Homo sapiens: one gene and its partner. The protein of the gene in region 1 interacts with the protein of each later gene in a pairwise test. Each region holds a gene or a part of one and is shown on either strand. Other genes may lie near its edges.

Region 1 (7,204 bases):
TATAATACTTATATTCGGCCATAGAGTACCAACAGCAGTGTGCATCAGCTGAGAAATCTGAAGTCTACATCATGGATAGGATTTCAGTTACAATTACAGTGTCAGTTTCTGAAGGATTGAGCAGCTGGATGGATTTGAGGACTATGGAAAATCTTACAGTCACGACACCCATTGTCTACTGGGGTAAACAGAAACTTAACTTTGTTCAAATAAAGTTATATTTAGGTCCAAAGGTCCTAAATGTAATATTCCATAAATGAACCCCATGTAGAACAAAGCACCAAAAATAACACTATTTGTGAATTACAGCAAATATACTGTCTCACGCTGAGAACAAAGGAATGAGTGGACAGCAATTAATGGGCATTGTTGTCAGTCTTATTCTAGATACCTTTAACAGTGAATCCTTAGAATAATCCATGACCTGAGTTAGATAATTGTTTTGCTTCAAAATATTTTATCTCGGAGAAATTATTTCCATCTCATGTTAATCTCAGGATAATTCCTTTTTTTTGGTTTTTCTAACCATAAAAGGATTTAATCACCTCCTAAAAGCCACTTAAAAAATCATACTACACCAGCTACCTGTATGGCAGTATCCTGAATTCTCCAGCTTTCAACAAACTTACCACATAAAAATATCAAAGGAAATGGTGGCCAGCAATCAGGAACTCAGTTTTTGGAGTTGCTCCTGCTCCTCTGAACTGGGTCTATTCCTGGGCCAGTACTAAGCTACATTACAGTAAAGCATTTGAGTTTTAAGCACTTTCAGCAAAATCATTTACTATTGTTACAGCAACATAGATGGTAGGAAGACACAAACTTTGGAACAAAACACAAATTTTGTATTCACCAGTCAAGTGTTCTTGGACAAAACACAATCCCCGGGCCTCCATTCTCTCATTCATAAAGTGGAGAAATTTTATCATAGTGAGGGATTTATTTCCCTAAGGTAAGCTGCAAACTATACCCTCTTCACTTTTCCAGTCAATTTCTAGGCATCGTTTGCATGGCTTTCATTCCTCCTGTTCCTGGTATGTGACAATGCATGAGACACACACACACACACACACACACACACACACACACACACACACCCCAACAGGCATTCTTCTTCCCTTTCCCTTCACCTTGAGCTGCAGATGCTCCCTCATCCTCTCTCTCTTCAGCAGGTGTAGAATCCTGACTTTGAGTTGGTGATTCCACTTCGTCAGGTTGCTCATCACTGGACTCCTTGTGGTAGGGAATATGTGTGTGAGTGTGCAAAGACAAAAAGTTTTGTTATTAATACATGTCAAAAAATATATACGTATACACACAGAGAATGCATAGATGTTTCTGATCATAACTAAACCTAAAAATATTTCTCCAACTTTATTCTATATGGTTAATAAGGCTACTCTACCCACAGAAAGGTTACTGCGAGAAAAGTTACCCACAAGGACTTTGGAAGCTATTGCACTCTATGTTGGAATAGATGTGTATAATCTATGTGTCATTCACAAGCAAAGCATGAGAAAGAAGTCATGGCCAAAAGTTGGAGAACACAAGAGAAAAAAAAAATCCTCCTGAATCAATATTTCCTTCATGAGATACCAGAATCTTATTTTTTTAATCAGCATGAACTACCTTTATTAGTGTATCTATACTAATGCAACAACACTATCACAAAAATTAATTTCTGCTAATAGAAAACATCGAATTAACGTTAAAGCACTCAACAGCATAGGCCCAATTACCTCAGAAGATTCTACATAGATCATTGGTCTACGCCGATAGATTAATCTTCTTAGAAAACCCATATTTCACACTGAAAAGAGAAAATTGTGATTGGGAACATGCACTTGAGAGGACAGCTATATTCGATCACTTCCATGGCTAAATGTTAACTTGTCATTTTAATTTTGAAAATACTCTCAAAATAAGTCCCAGAGTTAAGTGCAAGTGTGTACGTTTTCTGAGTGCTTGCAAAGCCACTTATGCTCCCCAAGCTGGCAGAGTAGTCATCTTAAGGCATGTGGCAAAAGGCAGAGGACATTATTTTAAAATTTCTTTTAGACACAGAATCTCGCTCTGTTGCTCACGCTGGAATGCAGTGGCGTGATCACACTTCACTGCAGCCTCGACCTCCCGCTCACGCGATCCTCCTGCCTCGTCCGGAGTAGCTGGGACTACAGGCGCGCACCACTGCGCCCCTCTGACAGAGGACGTTTCTGATGAGGTTTAGTTTCACAAGCGGACTCCACATGAAAACACTAGTGAATCACAATTCCCGTGACTGCTGCTTTTGGCACACTCCCACTTACTAGAGCCATTCACCCCCCTCAAATCAAGTTTGGTTGGGCCACACAGCCTCTCCCAGTCCTTCCCATTGTTTCCGGACCTTCTATGGCAGAGGTGAGACCTTGCCACGCTTCTCACTCGGGTGTTTCTCACTCGGGCACTCCCCACTCCACACCGCTGGGGGGCGCTCACCAGCCCACAGCCTTCCCAGGTTCCAGGCCCCTTCTTTACCGCCATCTTCACCACCCACCTCCCGCCTCGGGGCCCCATTCAGGACTCAGGAATGTGCCCTGTGTCATGGGTTCCTACCACCTCGGGACTTTGACCCCTCCAACAGCACCCGCAGCACTCGCCTCATTTTCACCTGAGCCCCTGACCGCTTCCCCTTCATGGCCCACTTTCCTCCCTGTCCTGGCCCCTTCACGACCACAAAGCCGATGGCGGCGTCGCAGCCTGTGAGGAGAAGGAGGACGAGCTCGAGGCCCTTCTCTTTTGGAGGCCACTGAGGCCCTTCTCCCTCAAAAGCCACACACCACCAGACCGAGGGGCCCACCGAACCTGCCCGAAGCCCACTGGCTCCGCCTGAAGCCCACTGGCTCCTCCTCACCCTCACTCACACTTCAGCCCCTGGGAGGACTGGCCTGCGGATCTACCAGATGAGTCTCAGTAGAGGAAAAAAGTGTCCGGACAGCAGGAACGCGACTGCACACTCTCACAGCTCCCTGGCGTTCTCCACGTGGGCGAAGGGGCCGACGGGAAGGCACCCAGTGAACATGCGCACTGAGGCTAGCACCCAAAGGTGGGGAGGGCTGCAGTTCCCAGCCCCACACCCCACACTCCCGATTTTCATCCCCGTGAAGATAATGGAATCCGACCTCCCTCTGCTGTTTCATATGCCTCGGGTACTCAAATACCTCAAATAGTGCTCCCCTCAAAACTCATTCCATCTTCAACTGAGCCCCCCTCCCCTCCAGGGCCCTCTCTTGCTCTGGCCCTGCCATAGGGACAAGGACCATGGTGGCTGCCTGTGAAGTGAGGTAGACGACCTGCTAAAACAGAAATAGCAACATACCTCATAGCATTATACAAGACTAAGAGTCTCATAACTAAATATTAAAAATGTCTAGCATATAATTCAAAATTACTCAGAATATGAAGAACCAGGAACATAGGGCCACTGAAATAGGGAAAGACAATCAGCAGACATCACTGCTAAGATAGAGATGTTGGGATTATGTGGGAAAGCCTTTAAAGATGCTATTTTATAAACGCTTAGGCTGGGCGCGGTTGCTCATGCCTGTAATCCCAGCACTTTGGGAGGCCGAGGCGGGTGGATCTCTTGAGGTCAGGAGTTCGAGACCAGCCTGACCAACATGGTGAAACCTCGTCTTTACTAAAAATGCAAAAAATTAGCTGGGCATGGTGGCGCGCACCTGTAGTCTTAGCTACTCGGGAGTCTGAAACAGGAGAATTGCTTGAACCCAGGAGGCAGAGGTTGCAGTGAACCGAGATCACGCGACTGCACTCTGGCCTGGACAACAGTGAGACTCCGTCTAAAAAAAAAATGCTTAAACAAGCAATCATGAACACTGTTGAAACAAGTAAAAACAAAGTCCTGGCACACACACAAAAAAAGAATATTTAAAGAAGAAGCAAATGGAAATTTTAGAAGTGGAAAATATGATAACGAAGGAAAATAATTCTCCCCAAATGGATTCAATAGCAGAATGGAGACAAGAAAAGAGTTTGTGAACTCAAAGATAGAGAAATAGAAATTGTTCTGTGTGGCCAAGAGCAGTGACTTACACCAATAATCCTAGCACTTTTGCGTGCTGAAGTAAGAAGATAGATGGCTTGAGGCTAGGAGTTTCCAACCTGGGCAACATAGTGAGACCTTGTCTCTACAAAAAAACAATTAAAAATAGCTGAGTGTGATGACACATGCCTGTAGTCCTAGCTACTGTGAAGGCTGAGGCAAGAGGATCCCTTGGGCCCAGGAGTTCAAGGCTGCAGTGAGCTATGATCACACACTGCAGTCCAGCCTGGGCAACAGAGTGAGACCCTGTGTCTAAAACAAAACAAAAAGAAATTGTTGAAGTGTCTCATAACCTGATATTCAAAATGTCCAGCATATAATTCAAAATTACTCAGAATACGAAGAAGCATGAAAGTTAGGCATCTTGGCCAGGTGCAGTGGCTCATACCTGTAATCCCAGCATTTTGGGAGGCTGAGGCAGGTAGATCACGAGGTCAGGAGTTCAAGACCAGCCTGGCCAAGATGGTGAAACCCCATGTCTACCAAAAATACAAAAATTAGCTGGGTATGGTGGCGGGCACCTGTAATCCCAGCTACTCGGGAGGCTGAGGCAGAGAATTCCTTGAACCCGGGAGGCAGAGTTTGCAGTGAGCCAAGATCGTGCCACTGCACTCCAGCCTGGGTGACAGAGTGAGGCTCCATTTCAAAAAAAAAAAAGGAAGTTATGGAATTTCAAATGGAGAAAGACAGACAACTGACACCAATGCAAAGACAGAGATGTTGAGATTATCTGGGAAAGCCTTTAAAGATGCTAGTTTAAAAAAGCTATAAACATCCATGTCCAGACACAAGTTTTCAACTCCTTTGGGTAGATACCAAGAAGTACAACTACTGGACTGAATAGTAAGAGTTTGTTTAGTTTTGTAAGAAATACTGCCAAACTGCCTTTCAAATTGGCTTTACCATTTTACATTCCCACCAACAACGAATGAGAGTTCCTGTTGCTCCACGTCCTCCCCAGAATTTGTTGTTGTCAGTGATCTGGATTTTGATCATTCTAATAGCTGTGTTTTTGGTGCAGTTTTCATCAACCCTGGCTGCCCATTGGAATTGCCTGGTAGAACATTTTAAAAATGTTGATTTTCGGCTGGGCACAGTGGTTCACACTTGTTATCCCTGCACTTTGGGTGGCCGAGGTAGGTAGATCACCTGAGGTTAGGAGTTCAAGACCATCCTGGCCAACATGGTGAAACCCCATCTCTACAAAAAGACAAAAATTAGGCTGGGCGTGGTGGCTCATGCTTGTAATCCCAGAACTTTGGGAGGCTGAGGCGGGCAGATCACCAGGTTAGGAGATCGAGATGATCCTGGCTAACACGGTGAAACTCCATCTCTGCTAAAAATACAAAAAATTAGCCAGACGTGGTGGCAGGCGCCTGTAGTCCCAGCTACTTGGGAGGCTGAGGCAGGAGAATGGCATGAACCCGGGAGGTGGACCTTGCAGTGAGCCGAGATTGCGCCAGTGCACTCCAGCCTGGGCGACAGAGCAAGACTCCATCTCAAAAAAACAAAACAAAACAAAAATTAGCTGGACATGATGGCAGATGCCTGTAGTCCCAGCTACTCGGGAGGTTGAGGCAGGAGAATTGCTTGAACCTGGGAGGCAGAGGTTGCAGTGAGCCGAGATCGTGCCATTGCACTCCACCCTTGGTGACAGAGTGAGACTCCGTCTCAAAAACAAACAAACAAACAAAAAAACCACAAAGATATCGATTATCAGCCTCCACCCCAGGACAATTAAGCTGGGTCTGGGGCTTAGTCATTTATTCATGAGCATTTAAAAAGTATTTCTCAGGTTATTTAAATGCGTATCTGGTGTTGAGGATGGCTAGTTTAGAACATATATTACCAATAGGCCTTTGACGAAGTGTTCAGAGCAGTGAGAAAGGTAAGATGTAAAGCTTTTACCATCTTAAAGTCAACCAGCTTATTGGAGATGGCTTGATCAGACACTTTTGGAAGACCCTGCTTGAGATAAATCAAATATAAGCAAAGTAGTAGTAGATGTTGAAGCAGAGACAGCTAAAGGGACATTAGAGCTGCAATTTAGGGCCTTTCAGGGTTCCCCCAGATGATTAAAACTAACCAGAGGCCATAACAATCATCTTTTCTAAGACTATAGAGAGAATAAAAGCAGAAGGAAAGGGAGAAAAAAACCATAACTATTTTTTAAACCTTTCCTAAACCCTTAGCATATTTTGTAGTCCTTACTCTATCACCTGAACTAGTCTATTTTATAAAGCGGCCTGGATAACCTTTAAAGTCCTCTATGTGGGTCTCTATCAGCATTTGCCAGTCATAACTAATGGACTGAGATAGAAGACACAGAAGCTGTGCCTGTAGAAGAACATAAGACAATGACAAGAGACCAAAAGCAGGTCCATTTTGTACAGCTGCCTGGGGGTGTACATTTAGGAGGACTGCAAAAGTTAGAAGACATACCTTACTTATTAAAAGTGGTAACTAGAAAATGTGCCCCTAAGGAAAATCAGTATTTTTTTAAAGTATACCATTCAGTATTTTTAGTATATTCACAAAAGTTGTGCAACCATCAGTACTAATTCCAGAACATTTTCATCACCCCTAAAAGAAACTCTATTTTCTGTCTTTATGGATTTTCCTATTCTGGACATTTCATGTAAATGGAATTATACAATATGTAGCCTTTTGTGTCTGGCTTCTTTCACTTTGTGTAATGTTTTCAAGGTTCAACCACATTGTACCATGTATTAGTATTTCATTTTTTATTATTGCTGAATAATATTCTATTATATTGATGTACCACATTTTGTTTACCAATTCATCAGCTGATGGACATTTAGGGTCTTTCTACTTTTTTGGTCACCGTATATAATGTTGCTGTGTGTATTTGTGTGCAATTTTTTCTATGGACATATGTTTTCATTTCTCTTGAGTATACAGCTAGGAGTGGAATTGTTGGATCATAGAGTAATTCTATGTTTAACTTAAAGTGCCAAACTATTTTCTACAGTAGCTTCCCCGTTTTACATTCCCATGAGCAATGTATAAAGGTTCTTCTTTCTCTGCCTCCTCAGCAACACTTGTTATTTTCCATCTTTTTGATTATAGCCATCCTAGTGGGTT
Region 2 (4,422 bases), on another chromosome or scaffold:
CTACATGCTGTACAGGTTTGTAGCCTAGGGGCAACAGACTGTATCATATAAACTAGGTGTGTAGTCGGCTCTACCATTTGGTTTGTGAGTACACCCTATGATATCTGCACAACAATGCACTCACCTAATAGTGCATTTCTCAGAAGGCATCCCCATTGTTAAGTGATGCATACCGGACTTCATGCATTTAAAAAAATGCCAGAACACTCCTTACTTAGTGCATAGACTTTATCAAATGTTGAATAAAAACAGAAACAAAAAGGAGACAATCCTACAATGAAAAGGAGACACTCAGGTCCACCCTAGTGATTCCTTGTATGTGGAGGAGGTAAGTGGGACATGGACAGTTCTAAAATATAGTACGTATATACCCGACAACCACAGTGTTTTGCATTTCTTTATCAGTGAAAAACAAACTGATATCTGAAGTGTATAAACAGTTCCCTAGTAGTCTATTTGAGAAAAAGTATCAAATGTGCATCAATATGTTAAAACTGACAAATACAAGAAAAGCATTCAGCTAGAGAAAATTCACAGCATTTTATTCAAGTTAATCAATTTCATTCAATAATCTGCCATATTGTTCCCAGCACCACTATTACTGTTATTATTTCTCTTTGAGGAAGACCAGGTATTAAGAAATCTGGTTTGAATTTCCATGATGCCTAACTCTATGGTTAAAAATCCTTTTCCTTACCAAAAAGGAACTTCTTAATCACCAGAGAAACAGAGGGAAGACTGAGATATGTTTGCAGAAATTTATCTCTACCAGAGACAATTCATAGTTCATAATCTTTCAGGGTTGTGCTTTACTTGGGGGCTCCGTTTTCGGGAGCGGGTTGTTTCCCATAAATGTTTGCTTAATACAAATAATTTGCCCCACTGTACCACAGAAGGGAAATGAGGGCTAGTGTCCCCAGAAAGCAAGCAGGCAGTCCTCCAGGGAAGAAGCCCTAATGGCTCCTAGTGGTGACAGAGTCATTCTGCCTCCCCAGCCTGTGAGCAATAATAAAGTATAACTAAGTGAACAGGAGAGGTAATAACTAGCCAGATAACCCATGGGCTAGAATCTCTAAACAGAAATGCTTGTGTTTTGAATAAATCAGAGCTGGAAAGACACACTTTTGGAGAAGTGATTGAGAATAGAAAGGTATGAAAAAGATAAAGGTTTCTCACCAACGAAACCACAAAAAAGGTGGTACCAGTCAAAGGTAGACTTGGGCTTTTATTTTGGGGTGAGGGTACCCCAAATGGGTTGTGCCATTTTCACATAAAAATTGGAATGATAATGAACAAGTGAAAGTGAAATCAGTTTCCCTCCTTTGTTCAATAAACATGGTTAGAGCACCTGTGTGCAAGATAGTGGGACAGGTGCTGAGGGGAAAGGTAAAGCTGTTTAAGCTGTGGCCCTGAGCTGAAGGAGCAATCTAGCAGTGCCATCAGGCCCTGCACACTGCAGAGCACAGTGTCCCAGGGGCCAGGTGGAGGGAAGGATCACTTCCGGCTGCAGCATCAGGGAAGGCACTCTGCAGTCTCCCCTCCAGGTTCTCAGCGTGCCTCTATGCCTGTGTGACTGCTCAGCCTGCCCCATTCCAGGCACTTGCTCATCTTCCTTATCTTTCTCTGTAGCATGAGAAATGGAAGTTTGAGAGGATAGGATCCTACCTCACAGGTACCTAATAAATGTGTGTGGAATTGACATATAGTGGAAGTGTCACTTTATCTTAGTGCAGCAAGGTGGAAAGAGCTTTGGAAAGGAGAGGAAAGATGGTGGTTGTGAGGGTAAGGTGTTTTCATCAGAAGGCGGGAGCAAGGGTATACAAACCAAAAAGTCAGTTTAGTATGTGGCTTAGCTCAGAGCACACGAGGGTACCAACACAGCCAAAGACTGTAAGAAGGTAGCTGAAGTCCTCTGCCAAATAGGATTGAAAAGCTAAAATCTTTCTCTGTTTCTTTCTTAAGTAACAACTGGTCTATTCAAGCTCAACCAGAGCATATAAGAGAAAAAACTGACTAACGAGGGGGTCTTAAAGAGCTTTGAAGGACAGTTTCTAGAAAGTAGAAAGATCACTGAGTAAATTACTGCACCTCCTCTACCCCACAAAAAAAAGGGTGAGGATGAATGTAAAAGTGTAGAGCAAGCTTTCAGACAACTTCAAGTTTGTTTTTGGCGCTTCCGTTTGTAAGCAATCAAGATGGTGAGAGACGCTATCCCAAAGAAGAAAGTCTGTAGGAACCAGAGTAGCTGAGCCCGACCACTTGTGATGCCTTTATGCCTAAAACAGAAAAAACAAAATTTAAACACGAGATGTTAATCTTACAGTTTCATGGGAGTTATTGTCTTCTATATATATATTTTTTAAATTATACCTTCCACTACTTTCATTGGGTTTATTTTGCTGCTTTTCTCTGGCTTATCTTGGATGGTTCATTTATTTTTCATCTTTCTTGTTTTCTAACAAATGTATTTTGGATGGTAAACTATTCCCTGAGAACTAGTCTGGCTACTGTCTAGGGCACAGTATTATAAGACTGTTTCTCATGTGATTCTGATGAGCGGATGGAGTAAAAAGCACTGGTATGGTTTCAGAGCAAATGTTTTGCAAATAGACCAGATATAAATCCTAGCGTGGCTACCTACCAGCTGTGACCTGGGCAAATCACTCAGAATCTCTCAGAATCAGTTTTCTCATCTGAAAAACAGGAACAGCAGTAGCTATCTCACTGAGTCAGTTGAGATGATTTATGGGATAATACACACAACATGCTCAGGAAGGAGCCTGGCACACAGTCATGATAAACACCTGCTTATATTGTCATTCAAATTCAACTGCCTAAAATGAAGTGCAAAAAAAAGATGACCCAATGGAAGGGAATGGCTTGCTACAGTCTCATCTGTACATAAATAAGTCTCACTTGGATGACTTTTATTTAAAACAAACTTTAAAAACAATATATGTAAAAGCAATATAATTTTCTACAGTAACAGATTAAAACAGAAAGATCATATGAATATCTTAATAAATGCAGAAGTGGCATTTGACAAATTTCTTTTTTTTTTTTTTTTTGAGATGGAGTCTCGCTCTGTCACCCAGGCTGGAGTGCAGTGGCGCGATCTTGACTCACTGCAAGCTCTGCCTCCCGGGTTGATGCCATTCTCCTGCCTCAGCCTCCCGAGTAGCTGGGATTACAGGAGCCCGCCACCACGCCTGGCTAATTTTTTGTATTTCTTTAGTAGAGATGGGGTTTCACTGTGTTAGCCAGGATGGTCTCGATCTCTTGACCTCGTGATCCACCCACCTCGGCCTCCCAAAGTGCTGGTATTACAGGCGTGAGCCACCACGCCCGGCTGCATTTGACAAATTTCAACATCCATTCTTTTTCCAACCCCCCCAGAGATGGGGTCTCACTCTGTCACCTACAGTGGAGTGTACTGGTACAATTATAGCTCACTGCAGCCTCAAACTCCTGGGCTAAAGCTATCCTCCCACCTTAGCTTCCCAAGTAGCTGGGATCATCACAGGCACGCACCACCATGCCTGGCTAGGTTTTTTGTTTGTTTTTTGTAGAGACAGTGTCTTGCTTTGTTGCCCAGGCTGGTCTTGAACTCCTGGCTTCAACTGATTCTCCCACCTCAGCCTCCCGAAGTGCTGGGATTACAGGTGTGAGCCACCTGCATCCACATCCAACATCCATTTTTAATAAAACTTCTCAGCAAAGTTAGAAATACAATGGAACTTCCTAATTTTGACACAGGAGATCTACAAAACTCTATAATAAACATGATGCAAAATGTTGAAAGTTCTCCTTTGAGGTCAAGAACAAGGCACACTTCTAGTCAGCACTGCTGGAAGTTCTAGCTAGTAGAATAAGGGAAGAAACATAAATAAAAGGTATACAGAATTGAAAGAAAGAAATAAAACTGTATTTCTGGACAGTTTTATACCTAAAAACTGAAAATAATCTATAAACTGTTACAATTAATAAATTTATTTAGCAAGATTGCTGGGTATAAGGTCAATATAAAAAATTGACTATATTCATACAAAGTACCATCAGACAATTAGAAAATGAAATGAAACAAAGGGAGCCAAGATCATGCCACTGAACTCCAGTCTGGGCGACAGAGCTAGACTCCATCTCAAAAAACAAAAACAAAAACAACAACAAAAGTTGGCCAGGTGTGGTGGCTCAGGCCTGTAATTCCAGCACTTTGGGAGACCGACGCAGGTGGATCGCTTGAGCCCAGGAGTTTGACATCAGCCTTGGCAACATAATGATACCCTATCTTTTTTTTTTTTTTTTGAGACGGAGTCTTGCTCTGTCGCCCAGGCTGGAGTGCAGTGGCATGATCTCAGCTAACTGCAAGCTCCGGGGCCTCCCGGGTTCATGCCATTCTCCTGCCTCAGCCTCCTGGAGACC

What was found. Proteins that work in one complex are often made in the same cells at the same time.
Region 2: the proteins of PAGE1 (region 1) and TMEM254 interact in binary tests that used the Homo sapiens proteins (3 or more experiments, as listed by UniProt).

Annotation. Positions count from the first base shown.
Region 1 is NC_000023.11:49,692,969-49,700,172, forward strand, and holds the start of PAGE1 (P antigen family member 1), read right to left. Parts: upstream 3,017-7,204; 5' UTR 2,901-3,016; exon of another isoform or gene 2,891-2,900; intron 1,811-2,890; 5' UTR 1,803-1,810; coding exon 1,740-1,802; intron 1,234-1,739; coding exon 1,131-1,233; intron 1-1,130.
Region 2 is NC_000010.11:80,088,651-80,093,072, reverse strand, and holds the end of TMEM254 (transmembrane protein 254), read right to left. Parts: intron 2,694-4,422; coding exon of another isoform or gene 2,661-2,693; exon of another isoform or gene 2,642-2,660; intron 2,277-2,641; coding exon 2,156-2,276; 3' UTR 522-2,155; downstream 1-521.